2 separate regions of the Homo sapiens genome follow, and region 2 is linked to region 1. The links come from fine-mapping of genetic effects on gene expression. Tissue or cell type: pancreas. Region 1 holds a variant in brackets; the other region holds the start of a gene. All regions are shown on one strand. Distances are between the middles of the regions.

Evidence for each region. PIP is the estimated chance that this variant, and not a neighbour inherited with it, causes the effect.
Region 2: it holds the start of RBM38, and the variant in region 1 is fine-mapped to the expression of RBM38 in pancreas (GTEx, PIP above 0.99).

The regions. Positions count from the first base shown.
Region 1 is chr20:57,438,743-57,446,840 of GRCh38, forward strand. It overlaps LOC124904939 (a long non-coding RNA gene), which reads right to left and starts at 904. Exons shown (of 2, transcript XR_007067672.1): 1 at 691-904. RefSeq lists enhancers at 411-912, 912-5,495, 913-1,412, 2,447-3,306. The variant A/G (reference allele first, on the strand shown) is at 4,287.
Region 2 is chr20:57,386,847-57,394,944 of GRCh38, forward strand. RBM38 (RNA binding motif protein 38) reads left to right here and starts at 4,550. Exons shown (of 4, transcript NM_017495.6): 1 at 4,550-4,972; 2 at 5,808-5,931; 3 at 6,433-6,487. The coding sequence starts at 4,736. It overlaps RBM38-AS1 (RBM38 antisense RNA 1), which reads right to left and starts at 6,210. Exons shown (of 2, transcript NR_149006.1): 1 at 5,433-6,210. RefSeq lists silencers at 2,243-2,622, 4,233-4,632, 4,983-5,172 and enhancers at 4,267-4,768, 4,769-5,268, 6,023-6,212.

The DNA.
Region 1 (8,098 bases):
GTGACCAGCTGTGTGACCCAGGGCAGTCTCCATCTCTCTGGGATTTGCTCCTTGTCTGCACAGAGAAACAAGCCTTTCCTCTTAAGGGTGCCTGTGCATTCCAGGAGGCGGTCATAAGCACAGCTCTTAACAGAGTCTGGCACCCAGCAGCTTCCTGGCTATTGCTGGCTATTGTTGCTCTCCCATATTATAGGGGGGGCAACCAAGAAGCAACCAGAAGATGTTCAATGTCACAGAGCCTGTGGGTTCAAAGGCAGGCCTATGTGAGTCTCCTGCTGGAGGAAGAGCTCTCCTGGTGTGGCCAGTACCTGGGCCTGCTCCTGCGCTCCTCCGGCTTCCCTAGCTGCCCTCTGCCCACCTCCCGCCCCCCTGCCCTGCTCTCCTAACCCCCCAGCCTCCTGCCCTGCCCCACACCCCCCCACCTCCCTAACCCCCTGACCCCTCTGTCCTGCCCCCCACCCCCGACCCCTGTGCCCTGCGCCCCCACACCCCCACCCTCCTACCCCCTGACCCCTCTGCCATGCCCCTTCAGCCCCCCTGCCCTGCCCTCCCACCCCCCCTCCTCCTGCACTGCCCCTCCCACCCCCCATCCCCCTGACCCCTCTGCCGTGCCACCCCACTCCCCCACCCTCCCACCCCCGACCCCTCTGCCCTGCACCCCCAGCTCGGCCCTGCCTTTGTCCTGCTTACCCCCTAGCAGAAGGTGTTGCCCAGGCACTGGCAGGAGGTGGGGCCAGGCCGCACACTGGGCACTAGTTGCTATTTGCCTTCCTCTCCATGGCCCCGCCTGGTGTGGGCAGAGGTGGCATGGGGCCAGGCGGGTGGTGGGGAGGGCACCTGGCTGTCCTCTCTTCTCTCCCTGAGCTCCTGGTGGTGCTGGCCAGCAACTAGTTTGCCCAGAATTGAGGGCTTTCCTGGGAAGCCTGACTTTCAGTTCTAAAACTGGGAAGGTCCCGGGCAAAGCTGGGTGAGTTGGTCACCATGGCAGCAGAAAACCTGAGCGGGATGGGGGTGGGGCAGTAGAAGGGACAGCAGGGAGTCAGGGCCAGGATCAGCCACCCGGGACAATGTGCTGCCCCTCCAGCACCAGACAGAACCGAGGGAGGATCCCTGTCCCCCTCCCACATCACTGATTCTGGGAGCCTTAGTTTCCATTTTGGTAAACTGATGCTAGAGATTCCCCGCCTCACAGGGATGAGGGATGGGGAACTGGGTGAGGAAATGAGCATAGAGCACTTAGCAGATGCAGACATGTGATTCATGGGGGATCACATTATTAGGTCTCCGGCTTCAAACCCAGCTTCCCGCTGCTCAGAATAAAATGTGACACCCCACAGACCCTGGAAGCACCTGCGATCTCAGACCGAATCTCCCCAACTCCACTGCTCACTCTGCTCCAGCCCTGTGGGCCTCCTGGCTGCCTGAGATTGGGCCAGGCCTCGCCCTACCCCAGGGCCTTTGCACACGCTGTTTCCTCTGCCTGGAGCACCATGCTCTTCCCCCTCTCATCTTTGGGCCTCAGCTTCAAGGTCACTACACAGAGAGGCCTTCTTTGTCCCTCTTATTTGAAGGAATATCTGTCTCCTTGGGGAACAGTCATCTCTTGGCCGGTTGAGTGGCTGCCCTGGGCCTGGTATGGTGCCCCACCCAGATCAAAGCTCAGGATGTGGTCGTGGAGTGGAAGAATAAATGAATATTGACCTGTGGAGGTCCCAATGGGCTGGAGAAAGAGCCCAGTGTCTTAAATCTCTTTCCTCCTCTGAGCCTCGATTTCCTCATCTGTCAGCAGGCATGAGAGGAGCATCTGAGTCCTTGGTCTCTGTGAGGCATGAATGAGGGGACAGAGATGAAGTCTGTTCAGTGCACTTGGCCAGCAGCAGGACTCGGGGCCTGGCAGCTCCCCTGATGGCACCCTGGGGGCACTCCTCCCCACTGTTTCCTCCCTGAGGCCTGAGGACCCCATGGGCGGTGGGTGCTGCTCCACGCTCCACACAGACCAGGAAGCCAAGCTTGGGGCCACCCCCACTGCCTTCTCCCGGGCACCACTGCCCACGGCTGGCCTCTCCTCAGGCCACAGGTCTGGCCTGGCTGCCCGAACTCTCAGCCTGGAGGCAGCTGAAGCGTCACATGCCCTTGGCCAGCCGTCTCCGGGGGGGCGGGTTCCCCTCGGGAGACTTCAGCACATTGTCAAAGCTGTCAAACAATTTCCCTGCCAGGTTTTTGCAGGAATCCAAGGCCTCGCTCCCAATGCCAAACACCCTCTTAAGACGATATCTCCGGGGCCTGCAGGCCTGCTCAGCGGCGCTGCCTCTCCTCGGCCTTATATAGTCAAAAGCCGGGGAATCCCTGTCCCACCCTGGGCTGGGATCTGATGGAAGCTGCCACAGCCTTGGCCTGACCCCGGGATCTCCCGCCTCCAAATCGGCCATCTCTGGCCAAGGGGCCGGGTGAGAGGCCTGGCATGCGCACAGGCCTGCGCGGGGCTCTGGGTGTCCCATCAGCTGGCAGCTGGAGCGGCCAGGCCAGCACAGGCTCTTACCAAATAAGGCCTGGGCAGCTGGGCTTGGCCAGGCTCAGACGGCGGCAGCTGGGCCAGCAGTAGCAGGCCTGCCTGTCTCCTCCTCCCGCACTGCCCTGCCTGCCCAGCAAAGACTCTGCAGACTGTGGTCCCCTCGACTCAAGGGAGAGCTCCACCCTAAGAAGCCTGGGTAGACGGTCCCGGATCCCCTGCCAGACGCGCTGCCATGAGGAACCTCTGGCAAATTTCCATTGGGAACCTTGAGGGAAGGCAAGGTGGAGAAACATTCCTAGGACTCCCGCTGCTGCAACGGGAGCCCCGAGCCAGGCCAAGAAATGACCTGTCCCTCCCCCAGGACCCCGCTCCCACTCCTGCATCCCCCAGGGTGTTCCGATTTGGATGTTGCTTGTCCCACCAGTCAGCCCCTTCCTGGTGCCTGGTCTTTGGGGCCAAAGGGCAAGGCTGGCCAAGCGGTTTGGGAAGCGGGCCCGGGCTCAGGAGCACACTGAGGGCCCTTGGGCAGTGACCTGCCCTCCAACTGTGGCTATGATGAGGAAGGCGCATGCGTGCTGGTTGAGGAGGGAAGACCCCCATGACCATGAGCCAGTGTGGGCAGAGGAATGGGCAGGGGGAGGGGCAGGGGGCAGGTCCTCCCTTAGGAGCCACTACGGGGCATGAGGCTCCTGTGTCTGCTCGCCTTGGTTCCAGCCAGCAGCTTTGGCTCTTGGAGCCTCAGTTTTGCTATCCTTAAAATGGGTGTGATACAAACGCTATCTCAGGGTGGCAGCGGGAGTTCAAGGGGACAAGATGCACACCTCTCAGGGCCCTGCAGGGAGTTCCTGGAAGATTGACAGCAGGGCGAGGGAGGGATCTCTCCTTTCCTCGGAGATGGGGGAGGCAAGGGCTCTCTTTCTGTCCCTGACACCCCCTCCTCAGCTCCTCCTGCCCTCCCTGCTGTCTCATTATCTTAGGTGTGATGGGGGCATGGTGAGGCCTCCCAGCCACTCCCAGTGCTGGAAGTGCAGGCGTGGGGTGACCAGCTATTGCACATGTGACTGCATGGCTGTGTGTGTACGCATGTCCCTCCCAACCCCTATTAGCACAACCATGGGAACGTGACCGTGCAGCCCAACAGCCAGGGCGCGGGATACTCGAGAGGGTGGCCCCGGCCTGGGGATGTCTGTGGTTCTGCTGCTGCTCATTTCTGAAGCCCCTTCATGAGTTCTGGGACTCCTGGGGGGATGGGGCCCACTTATGAGTCCCTCAGAGGCATTCAGTGCAAAGTAAAAATGTGGCCCCCCCTCCAAACGTTCAAAAACGACGAAGACTTTTAAGACGACAACAGCAGAGCATTAAACCAACAGGCGGCCCTTCTGAGTGTGAGGGTCCCTCTGCGACTGCACAGGTCACACCCCATGCAGCCGGCCCTGTCCCCTCTGCCCCTCTGCAGCTCAGGTGGGCGGGGCCTGACCACTCCAGCCTGGTCACTCCAGCCTGGCCTTAGACTCTGAGGTGAGTGGTGCCAGGACCTGCCGGTCAGCCTGGATTCATCATAGCCTCTGTTGTCCAGTAGGCTTGGCAAGAAGGGTCTGTGGAAGTTTATAAAAGTGACACCCCCCAGCCCCCAACCTGGGGAGCAGCCAGGAGCCCTATGTCAGAATGTGCGGCCCCTAATGAAAGTGCTCTTCCAGCCACTCTATTTAAGCCAGGTGAGTTTGTTCTCAGGGACTGGAGGCCGGCAAGGTAATGCAGCTGTTTTTAGCGTTTT[A/G]GCAGGAGGCAGGTGCTGGCCAGGACGCCTGTGACGCTGTGGGTGACGATGGCCATGACCCGGACACATACAGGTTGGGCAACCTGGGCAGAGCTGGTGTGCCTGGAGGTGGGGCGGGGGGGGTGCCTGGAAGACTGGTGTGGCCTGGATGTCCTGAGAGCGCCAGAACCTCTCCTTGGGGCTCCCTGGGTGGCTACCACCTTTGACTCTTGCCCTAGGGGCACACACTGCCACCTTTCCAGAAAGTTCTCTGGGATCTACAGAAACTGACCACCCATCCAGGTGCTTGAACGTGTCAACTGGTAACTTGCAGCTGTTCTGTTGGAACCTCTGAGATTCCAAGCAGAATTGCTCAGAACCTTCCGGATGCCCCACATGACATCCGCTCCCTCAGGGATAGACAGGGTTCGGCTGCTCATCGGGGTCTCCCAGAGCCTGGAACAGCGCTGTCCTAGAAGCCGTGAACAACCATCCTGCAAAGCTGGAGAAGCAGGGCATTTCCCCGCTGACACGCTCAGGACCAGGAGCTGGTGTGCGTCAAAGTCAGCACCAAGGCCGGTCCATGGCCTGTGAAATACTCGTCCCTCAAGATTGCATTTCAATGGAAAGACTGGCATTTCCCATTCATTCACCTATTTTTTGATGGAGGAAAAAGGTCTTTCTGAGTGGGGTGGGGTGCTCTGCTGCTTGGGGTGGTCCCCTCATCTTCCTTGCATAACCCACATCTCCAGTGTATCTTGTGCCTTTGCAGTTTCTCTTTCTTTGAAATGGAAGAGAGAAAGAATATGCTCCCAGAGACGGTAACTGGAGAGCTTCGGAGCAGACTTTTATACTCTAAAGTAAACTTGTCCTTTTCATTAATTAACTAACAGAGATTTATTTGGTGTGGACCTCACGCCACAGCCTGTGCTGGATGCTGAGAACAGAGGAAAAATGAGCCCAGGGAAATTGTGCCTGAGTGCAGCTAGGTCAGTTTTCTGTTTTACAAATGCAGGAACCAAGGCTCAGAGAGGGTGTGTGAATCACCTAAGGCCACACAGCGCCTGTGTGACAGGCTTTGGCCTGTAAGGGGAAAGCCGGCTAGAAGAGATGAGAAAATGGGGTGTCATTCACCAGCAAAACTGGGTTCAAATCCGCCTCTGGGACCTTGGGTAGGACCGGCCTGCCAAACACAAATGCATATCTGATTGTTCCCCTACCCCATTTTGTCTGTGTTATCTTATGTAAAATGCAGATTCCCCCATCCTTCCTTTATCCCTTTTGTTTATGTGGGTCCCCTCAAGCTTTAAGGGCTGTGCTCTGCTATAAGCTAGCCAACTTCTTGGAGCCTCAGTTTCTCATTTGTCAATGGGAACAATTACTGCTGGTTCCTGCGGTCACTCAGCAAATATTTGTTAAGCACCTACTAGGTGCCATGCAGCATTGTAGGCACTGGGATATAGCTGTGAGCCAAACACCCAGCACAGGGCTGATGTGGGAGCTGATGGGGTGGTGCAGCGGGCCTGGTCTGGGCTCCCTCAGCGAGCCAGGCCCAGGGCGCCCCAGGGCAACAGGGCTGCACTGCAGGTAGACTCAGCTTGGCAGATCCCTGGCCCTGGGGGCCGTCACATGGGGGCCAGGCCAGGGGCGTGTGGGAGCGGAAAGAGGATGGAGGGCAGGAAGGAGGGAGAAAGAGGGAGAAGAGAGGAGGGCACTCTCCTCATCCCCATCCTTCTCCAAAGAAGAAATGACGGCATCGTGCTCTCACCGACTCATCGTCCTAGTAGGTCCTTAGGACACCCAGCAAGCCAGACCTCCGTGTGACAGATGAGGAAACTGAGGCTCAAGGGTGACGTCACTTGCCTAGGATCACAGAATTCCCGAGGGGGATCTAGGCAGTCTCCCTCCACAGCCCAGTCTCTTCCCTTCGGACGCAATAAAAAAAGAGGGAAGGGGAGAGAATGATGGAAGGGGGGAGGAGGGAGGGGCAGCAGGAGGTGTGGGAAGCAGGAGGGGGAAGAGGCCCCTGGGAGGCTTTCTGGGCCCTGCCTTATTTTCCCCTCCCTCCTCCTCCTCCTCCTCTTCCTCCTCCTCCTCCTCCTCCTTCTCCTCCTCCTCCTTCTTTGAGACAGAGTCTCGCTCTGTTGCCCAGGCTGGAGTGCAGTGGCACGATCTCGGCTCACTGCAACCTCTGCCTCCCGGGTTCAAGCAATTCTCCTGCCTCAGCCTCCTGAGTAGCTGGGACTACTCAGCTCATTTTCGTAGTTTCAGTAGAGATGGGGTTTCACCATGTCGACCAGGCTGGTCTCGAACTCCATCCCCGCTTCTCCGGGGGCTTTTGCTCCTAGGGACTCGGGCTCAGCTGAGCTCCTGTGGCAAGTCCTGTGGGACTGGCATGGAAGACTCCTGGGCATGTGGTGGCTATGACTCTTCCCTGATGATGGTGGCCGCACCTTGGGATTGGCTTCTCCTCTCCGAGTCAGGGACCTGGCATTTTTGGCAGCCCTTGGGGGCTATTTTTAAACCTCACAGCTGGTTTTCATCATGGCTGCTGATAGGTACGTGTAGAAACATTGGCTCTTGCCAGCATTCTGAACAAACCTTGAAAACGAGCAGGGTTGGAGCGGATCAAAGTAGGGGCTCAGGGAAACCTGAAGTGGCAGCCAGTGCTTTGTCCCCACCCAGACCCTTGTAAGGGTAGGAGATGAAAGAGCACGGCTCAGGGGATGAAAGGAGGTGCCAGGGCAGGAGAGAGCCAGGGATTAGGCACGTTCCCTAGAAGATGTAGCTGAATGTTGGGACACAAGAGAAGGGCTCTTTAGCAGCTAGAGCCCTGTTATCCTCATTTTCCTTCTGGGAGGCAGCAAAATACAGAGGTTGAGAGCATGGATTCTGGAGTCCCACAAACCCGACTCCTGCCTTGAGTCCTGACTCAGCCTTTAACAGTTGTGTGACTGTGAGTGTATCAGTTAGCTACTGCTATGTAACAAATCGTCCCAAAACCTAGTTGCTTAAAACATGATTCTATGAGTTGACAATTTAGCCTGAACCATCAGTTGGATGGTTCTGGTGTGGGCTGGCATCCCTCATGCATTTTTGCAGTCAGCTGCCAGGTCTGCAGGAAGCTCTGACTATCATCTAGGGTGATGGGAACAACTGGTCTCTCATTCTCCAGCAGACCGTTCTCCTGATGGAGACAGGGGTCTGAGAGAGAGAGAGAAGAAACCTGCAAGGCAGTTTGGGGTCTTAGATTTGGCACGGTATCACTTCCAGCAATTCTGTTGGCCAAAGCAAGTCACAAGACCAACCTGACTCAAGAGTTTGGAAACCACCTCTGCCTTTTGATGGGAAGAGCTGCAAAACCATTTTGCAAAGGGCGTGGATACAAGGAAGGATGAATTTAGGTCATTTTATACAAATCTGTGTACCACACTGGGTACCTATATACCTCTCTGAGCCTCAGTTTCCTCATTTGTAACATGTGAATGGTTTGGCTTGTCAATCGGAGAAAACGATGAGACAAGTCTCAATCATTTTTGGAGATTTATTTGCCAAAGTTAAGGACGCACCTGGGAGACAGGTCTATGTCTTTCTCTGAAGATGATTTTGGGGGCTCCAAATTTAAAGGAGAAAGGGTGGGATATTGAGAAACACACAGTTTTCACATAAACAAAAGGGATAAAGGAAAGATGGGGGAATCTGCATTTTACATAAGATAACACAGACAAAATGGGGTAGGGGAACAATCAGATATGCACATGGGTCTGGCAGGCAGGGGTGACTGCACCTAAATAAAAGCTATAAATTGTTGTGAGAACTAAATAAGGTGAGGT
Region 2 (8,098 bases), 52 kb before region 1:
CACCAAGTAGGGTGCCATGTTACAGGTTCCAGGGATTAGGATGCAGAGGCCAGGATTCGGCCATGCACACAGGCCAGTGTCTTTCTGTCTTTGCAGCTGAAACTGAGGCATGTGCACTCTGCTGCTCCAGGAGCTGTCCACCAATGCTGCTGGGGCGGCCTGTGACAGCATCGACTGAGCCTGTCATTGCCACCTGGAGAGGGGCTGAACCTTTCCTCTCCCCAGTACCAGTGCCTGCTGGTGCATTTTGGCCTCTGTGCCCAGTAGTATGGGGAAACTTTTTTTTTTTTTGAGATGGAGTCTCACTCTGTCACCCAGGCTGGAGTGCAGTGGTGCAATCTCGGCTCACTGCAACAACCTCTGCCTCCCAGGTTCAAGTGATTCTCCTGCCTCAGCCTCCCGAGTAACTGGGATTACAGGCACGCACCACCACACCCAGCTAATTTTGTATTTTTAGTGGAGACGGGGTTTCACCATGTCGGCCAGGCTGGTCTCGAACTCCTGACCTTAGGTGATCCACCTGCTTCGGCCTCCCAAAGTGCTGGGATTCCCAGGCTCACTGCTCTGCACCTGGCAGATGAAAATGGCAACCTGGGGCTCCCATGGATTCAAAGGAGCTGGGCTGCAGGCTGGGGGTGTACAGGCCACCTGCACCAAGCTCAGCCCAAAGCTGAGTCCCCGAAGAGCCTTGATATAAACACCAACACGACAAACAAAAAGAGGAGGCCCAAGAGCGCGGGGCCTGAAGACTCAAACCAGAGCCCTGCCTGGATGGGGCTGTGCTGTTTCAGATCGCAGTGGCCGGCCTCACCTGCTCCTCTCTGCACATCCTCATCAGGGTAAACTCACTCTCCCTCCTCTGCAGGGCAGCTGGAGCCACAGCTGGGAGCAGAGAGCAGGCCTAGGCCAGGCAGTTCTGCATTTGTGCCCTGCACACATCACACATTTGCGAGGGAGGCAGGAGAGGACCTCTCTGAGCATCAGTTTCCTCAGCTATATAATGGGCATCATCGTAGTCATCTCTTCCTAGGGCTTTTGTGAGATGAACTAAGATAACACACAGAAAGTGCTGGGCTCATCCTCACACTGAGCAGGAATTCTGCGTTCCAAGCTCCTGCAATTTCCATTTTCTCACCCAGCACACACAGTTGCCAGTCCTCCCTCCCGCTCCCCAGTGAGGCCTGAGGGACCCAAGTCACCTCTGCCCAGCCTGGCTCCCAGCCTAGTCTCACAAAACTGTGTTCCCTTTCCAGGGGCCCTTTGTGGGCCATGGAACCCTTGGCAGTCAGCTGATACCTAAGGTAATAGTATTAAACACTTAAAATGCTTACCAGCCAGGCACGGTGGCTCACACTTGTAATCCCGGTGCTTTGGGAGGCGGAGGTGGGAGGGTTGCTTGAGGCTAGGAGTTTGAGACCAGCCTAGACAATAAAGGGAGACCTTGACTCTACAAAAAAAAATTTAAAAAATCAGCTGGGCGCATGCCTGTGGTTCCAGCTACTCGGGAGGCTGAGACTGCAGGGAGCTATGATCACACCACTGCACTCCAGCCCGGACAACACAGCAAGACCCTGTCTTTATAAAAAATAATAATAACAAATAAAATGCTTAGATTAGCAAAGGAAAACAATCACATTAAAATATAGGCTGGGTGTGTTGGCATGCACCTGAAGTCCCAGCTACTCAGGAGGCTGAGGCAAGAGGATCAACTGAGCCCAGGAGTTCTGTATCAGCCTGGGCGACATAGAGAGACCCCATCTCTAATTAAAACAAATAAAAACGGCTATGAAAATATTTAAAAAACAAATATGTGATGTAGCAATGTAGACAAGCAATGTCTTCTTCATCAATGCGTTCAACAACAAGGTCAAGTAGTGGCGCTGATGAGACTGTAGTTTTTTTTTTTTTTTGAGACGGAGTCTTGCTCTGTCGCCCAGGCTGGAGTGCAGTGGTGCACATAAATGTGTGTTTGAGGCTGGGTGCAGTGGCTCAGCCTGTAATCCCAGCAATTTGGGAGGCCAAGTCAGGAAGATTGCCTAATCCCAAGAGTTCGAGACCAGCCTCTACACAAAATATAAAATTATCCCGGCATCGTAGTACGCACCGGTAATCCCAGTTACTTGGGAGGCTGAGGTAGGAGGATGGCTTGGAGCCCGAGAGGTCGAGGCTGCAATGAGCTATGATCGCTACACTCCAGCGACAGGGAGAGACCTTGTCTCAAAAAAAAAAAAAAAAAAAGTGTGTGTTTGGGTGAATGACTGATTGTCAGGCAGAAGCTGGTGACCCGTGGAGACATGGGGCCGCCGGAGGGGGGGAGGGATTGGTGATCCAGATACCCAAGGGGGCCCGGGGGCGGGGGGCGAAGGAGTGCGACTGGACCCGCACCTGGGCAACCGCGTCTCCAGCCTCCACGGCCCTGTCCCGCCCCCTTCCGGGCAGGCAGAGGCCCCGGGGCTGCCCTGCCGCCTGGGCCCGGCCCCCGCGGCAGCAGCCGAGCGGCCGCACCCCTTTGTGGGGCTGTCGTGCCGGGAGGGGCGCGGGCGAGGCGGGCCCGGGCGGCGCTGGGACTTGTAGGCCGGGAGCCCGGGCGCCTCCGGGCTGAAGCCCGTGGCCACGCCACCGACGCGGCTCCAGCCTGCCCAGGCAACGCGACGGCTGGGGACAGCCTTGGAAAAACTGAAGGGGAAACCGAGGCCTGGTGAAGGGATCCAGCTGGCGCAAAAGCACGCGGCCGCGCAGTGGCCGCCTCCCCCGGCCTCTAGGGGGCAAGTGAAGGTCACACTTAAATGAAAGTTTTCAAAGTCGCTTCGAAGGGCCTCCGGCTGGGCCAGAGCTTTCCCCCACCCCACCTTGTTCCATCGTGGATACACTCAACAAACATATCCCAGAGCCCTCTCCTTGCCAGGCCCTCCAGCTTGGGCAAAACATCCCAGGTCCCTGTTCTCGCAGCGCCCAAATAGCAGGGGAGGGGCTCCAGGCAGGCGAACACACAGGGCCGGGGAGGTGGGAAACTCCGCGAAGGAAGGAGAGGAAACCACGCGGGATGAAGGGCAACGGGGGCCGCAAGCGGGGGCAGGAGCGCCAGGAACGAGGAACGAAGGGGGAAGGGAGGAAAGGACGCCCAGGCTTCCGGAAGACTCGGGGGTCCCATCCCCACTGTGCAGAGGGCTAGAGCGGGAGCTGGGGGAGGGAGAGGTCAGAGGTCAAGGCTGCCGCGTGGAGCGTGGGCCGTGGAGTGGGGGAGGGGGCGGGCAGACTCCTCCCCGCCGGCAGCCAGGGCAGAGGGCTGGAGGAAACGCGGAGAACTCCTCGGTGCTGGAGGAAACGAGGGGAACTCCTCGCCGGCCTTGCGGTCCCCCACAGCCCACGGAGTGCCACTCCCAGTCCCCACAGACCCCACCTGCGTCGCCCTGTGCTGAGAGGAGGCCGCAGGGCTGGGGCCGGGAGTGACCCCAATTAGAGCTGCTGTTTCCCAGCTGCATAGGTCCCAACCGCGGGGGCTGGAGATGAGGCGGGCTTGAGGCCCCTAGTCCCGGCTTCAGAGGTGGAGGGTGTGACCCGCAGGTCCGGGATCCCGGGGTCTGTGCAGTCACACGGCCCTTCCCTTCGCTCAGGAAAGCCCGGGGCTGAGTTTCATGCTCAACCGCTGCCAACTTGAAATTCCTAGCTTTTGAATAAGGGGCCCCGCGTTTGCATTTTGCACTGGGCCCCGAAAATTCTGTGGCTGGCCCTGCCTGGTGTGAAGCTCACAGAGCCCCACTATGCGCCGCCTTTCTATGGCTGGGGGCCGGATGAGGGACCCGGGTCTGCTCTTACTCGCCCCAAGGGTCCCTGACACCAGCCCAGAACGGGGTGGAGCTGGAAAGAGCCCACACCTGCTTCCTCTGCCCACCTCATCTCCCGCGGGGCCTCTGAGACCGCCCGGGACCCGCTTCTATCGCGGCACCGTGGTGTAGCTCCCTCCGGGGTCGTATGCTGTATGTTTACTAGCCGAATTCTCAGTCCTGGACGCTCCGTGGGGCCAGGGAATATGATCTGTGCTCCGCTGCAGCCTCGCGCCCAGAGTAAATATCGGTCGGATGAACTAATCTTACATATAAAACAGAAATCATTTCCCTTTTTTAATATGGCACGTGGCTCTTCCCTAAGTCGCCCTGGGTTAAATACCGACTCAATTAACAAGATGCTAAAAACCGTTTACGTTTTTTTACGTTTTTTACGTTTAATTCACCAGACGGTGCGCTCCACGAGGGAAGGGGCCTGGCCTCCCTAGTTCAGGGTTGTGCTTAGTGCCTGCAACCGGCCGGGCCCGCGGGGGCAGCCAGGAGAGAAAGGCGCGCCCAGCGCCCCCAGGCCCGGATCCGCCCTCAGCCCGCGTGCGCTCCCCTCCCCCCTCCCCCCAATCGCCGCGCGCCCGGGTGCGGCTGGGCGGGGTTAGAACTACGCTTCCCGGCGGTCCCCGCGCGCCCGGGGCGGGGCGGGGCCGGCTGGGGGCGGGGCTGAGCTGGCGGGGGCGGCAGGCTACAAAGCCCGGGGGCGGTGCCGGGGCGCAGAGTCCCCGCAGCGCCGGTCGGGAGCGCAGCGCGGCGCACGTCGGCGCGCACGGCGGGACGGGCGCCGGAGTGGTCGGGCCTGGCGGCTGGACGGGCGCCCCTCGCTGCCCCGCGCGCTCCCCGCCGCCCCCCATGAGCGCAGCCCCGCGCGGCCCGGGTCCGTAGGCGGCGGGGCGCCCCCCATGCTGCTGCAGCCCGCGCCGTGCGCCCCGAGCGCGGGCTTCCCGCGGCCCCTGGCCGCCCCCGGCGCCATGCACGGCTCGCAGAAGGACACCACGTTCACCAAGATCTTCGTGGGCGGCCTGCCGTACCACACTACCGACGCCTCGCTCAGGAAGTACTTCGAGGGCTTCGGCGACATCGAGGAGGCCGTGGTCATCACCGACCGCCAGACGGGCAAGTCCCGCGGCTACGGCTTCGTAAGTGGCCCCCGCGCCCGGGCCCGCACCCCGCCGCACACCTTATCGCGGCCCGGGCGCCGAGTCCACTCCGGGGCACACGCCCAGACGGCCCGCTGCCGCCCCCGCCCCAGGCGCCTCCAGCCGGCGCCCGCACCTGCCGCCTCTCCCGGGCGCGCTCCTGCCGGTCCCGCCCCCACCACCCCAGGCCCCGGCCCCCACCCCCACCCCCACCCCCACCCCCACCCCCGGTTTAAAAGGAAGAGCCGCTGTGTTCAATTAGGACTCCTAAGTTGGTGGGGAGGTTTTGGAGCCAGAGGGCACTCGGGATTTCCTGGAGCAGCGGGGGGTGAGGAGCAATGGCTCCACCCCGGGGTGTTAGGAGCTCTTCGGCCTCCCCCATATTTTTAACAGCCCTCTCAGCCGCCCCAAATAAACATCAGCTTAAGTAAAAACGTCTTGAAGACACTTTCCTGCTTACCTTCCAAGCATAGCGTCGCAAACTCCTTCTCAGAGGAAAGTCTCGGCCCTCACTGGTGGGCAAGTCCAGGCGGCCCCCCAAGCTCCCTTCGGGGTTCATTTTTGCCCTATCCCCGCAGGGGATTATTTTTGTCCTTGAAGGCCACATTTCCCAGGCCTTGAACTTTGACGGGAGGAGCTGGAATCCAGGAGGCATCTTTGTGGGAGAGCCCCAGGTAGGGTTCAGAGGAGCTTTGGCTCAAGGACCCTGGGTCACAGGCACCCTCAGAGGAAGGGAAGAGAGGGGTGGCAGCATCCGGTGCCAGGGCGGAGCCGTCTGCCCCTTTCGCCCCTGGTTCCCCCCACGGCAGCCCCTGATGTGTCTCTGCTCCACCAGGTGACCATGGCCGACCGGGCGGCAGCTGAGAGGGCTTGCAAAGACCCGAACCCCATCATCGACGGCCGCAAGGCCAACGTGAACCTGGCATATCTGGGCGCCAAGCCGCGGAGCCTCCAGACGGGTGAGAGCTTGTGTTTTCCTGCCTGGCTCTTCTCGGTTTCTATATTGGGTGTCGGTATCTGTCGGGTGGAAAGAGGCCCCCCCTCCTCGCCCCAGCAGTGGCAGTCGGCTATCATGTGCCTGCAGAGCCGGCACAGGGCAGCCATCCCCCCCTCGAGGATCTAGACCCCTTCTCACAGCGTGTGGCCCAAAGAAGGGGGCGGGGGGCAGGGAGGGTACTGCACCCCAGTTGCCAGCTGTCCTCGCAGGAGGGAGGAAGTGGCCATGGGGCCTGGAGGTTGGGAGTGCCGACACCAGTGGCTGCTGACACCTGCGTCACTCACTGCCACACTTCAGCGGTGTGCCTTGGGGTTCACAAGGGGGAGGCCTGGGAGGGGAGAGGAAGCGGATGATCCCTTTTGACTAGAGGTGTGTGGCTTGTGGGATTCTGCCACCCTGTGTGCAGCCCTTGAGACGTGGCTCGTGCAGCAAGGCCAAGTCCCTGATTGTTCTCTCGTTTTAGGCTTTGCCATTGGGGTGCAGCAGCTGCACCCCACCTTGATCCAGCGGACTTACGGGTGAGTGGACATGGCTGGCTTGGGGTGGGTAGTCCGTGGAGATGAAGTGGAGAGGGCCTTGGGCTTCCTGGGTCTGGAAGGCTGGGGAAATGACAGTTTTCAGACATTTGATTGCGTTTAAGCCAAGGGAGTGAAGAGAAGGCAGATTGCACTTCTCCATCCCTGGCAGAGGCCATACCACCTAGGGGATGGTGAGCCTTGGAGCCTGCCTGCCTTGGTACACACCCCAGCTCCCTTCGCTAGGTGTGTGGCCTCAGTTTCCTCACCCGTAAAATGGGAGTGGTCACAGCACATCTGAGTTCTCTGAATGGAGGGCCTAGGGTGGGCCTGGTGCAGGTAACGCCCTCTTGAAGTGTTTGCTGATGACTCTTAGGGACTGGCAGGCTGAGTTCTTCCCCAGGCACTCCTCTCACCTGTTCTAGTGCTGGGGCAGGTGGTGGCAGTAGGTCATTGCTACCAAGGTCTGATGTTTGTGAACGTTGCTGTAGATACGATGTGTTTGGGGTGGAGGCCACCTGCCTGAGTGGCCTGGCCTATGGGCTTCTAGTCTGACTCATTTACAAGCAGCGCAGCCCACTCTTCTCCATCCTAAAACGCCTCCCACCTCCCTGCCCTTTTTTAAAACATCTAGTAAGTCCTGGCAGCTGCTTGGGGAGGGACACACACACTTAAGGGATACAAAGAGTCCTGCCTTGCGGCCTGCCTCCCCACCCCCATGATGGATGGAAGCTGTCTGCCCTAGCGCCGTGGCATATTGATGGGGTTGGAGTTGGAGGGGAAGGCAGCTCAGAGACCACCACCCCTTTCAGGGCATTGGCACTTCATGAACTTTCTGAATCCAAATCCCTAATGCCAGTTGATCACGTGTGTGTGCTCACGCATGTGCGCACCACGTAGATTCCATTGAGAGAGACACAGCTTGAGGAGTAACCTGCCTGACTGGGGCAGTGTGGACAAGGATCCTGTGGAACCCGGCTGAGCCTGGCTCCCAGGTGAATGGGTCCCCTGGGGCCTGGCTCCCAGGTGAATGGGTCAGAGGCCCCAGCAGAAGTTGCTGTGCCCACTTTTTGGGAACGCTTGGGGTGACTCGGGGGCTCCCTGCCGGCTTCCGTGTGTATTGGTGGATGTGTGCAAGTGTAGCAGTGGGAGGAGCCGCTGGCTGAGGGGTGCTGGAGGGTGGCCGGGGCCCTTCTAGCCTGTGCGAGTGGCCGGGCAGCTCAGGTTCCTGCCGGGGTGCCTCTGTCCTCCTGGGAAGGGAGCGTGTAGGGTGGTGGGAGCAGGCGGCCCTGTCCGTCTCGTCCTGGAATCTGTTTTGTAGATGTCTAGAGTCGTCTTAGAGGGTGTTTGGGGACACTGTAGCCTTCATGCCTTCACCGAGATTCTTCCTATGGGGTTCAGGCCACATGAAGAGGGTGTTCCTTGTTTTCCAGAACCTTGGCTCCATTCCCCAGGCCCACAGCAGGCGCCTGGGGGCATGGACTGGGCGGGAGCAGCTGCCCAGAGGTGAGGGTGTGTGCCTCCAGTGCCTGCAGCTCTTTTCTGCTTACAGTGGGATAAGGCCTTCCCACGTGCGTCTGGGCTCGCTCTGATCCACACAGCTACCTCTGGGAC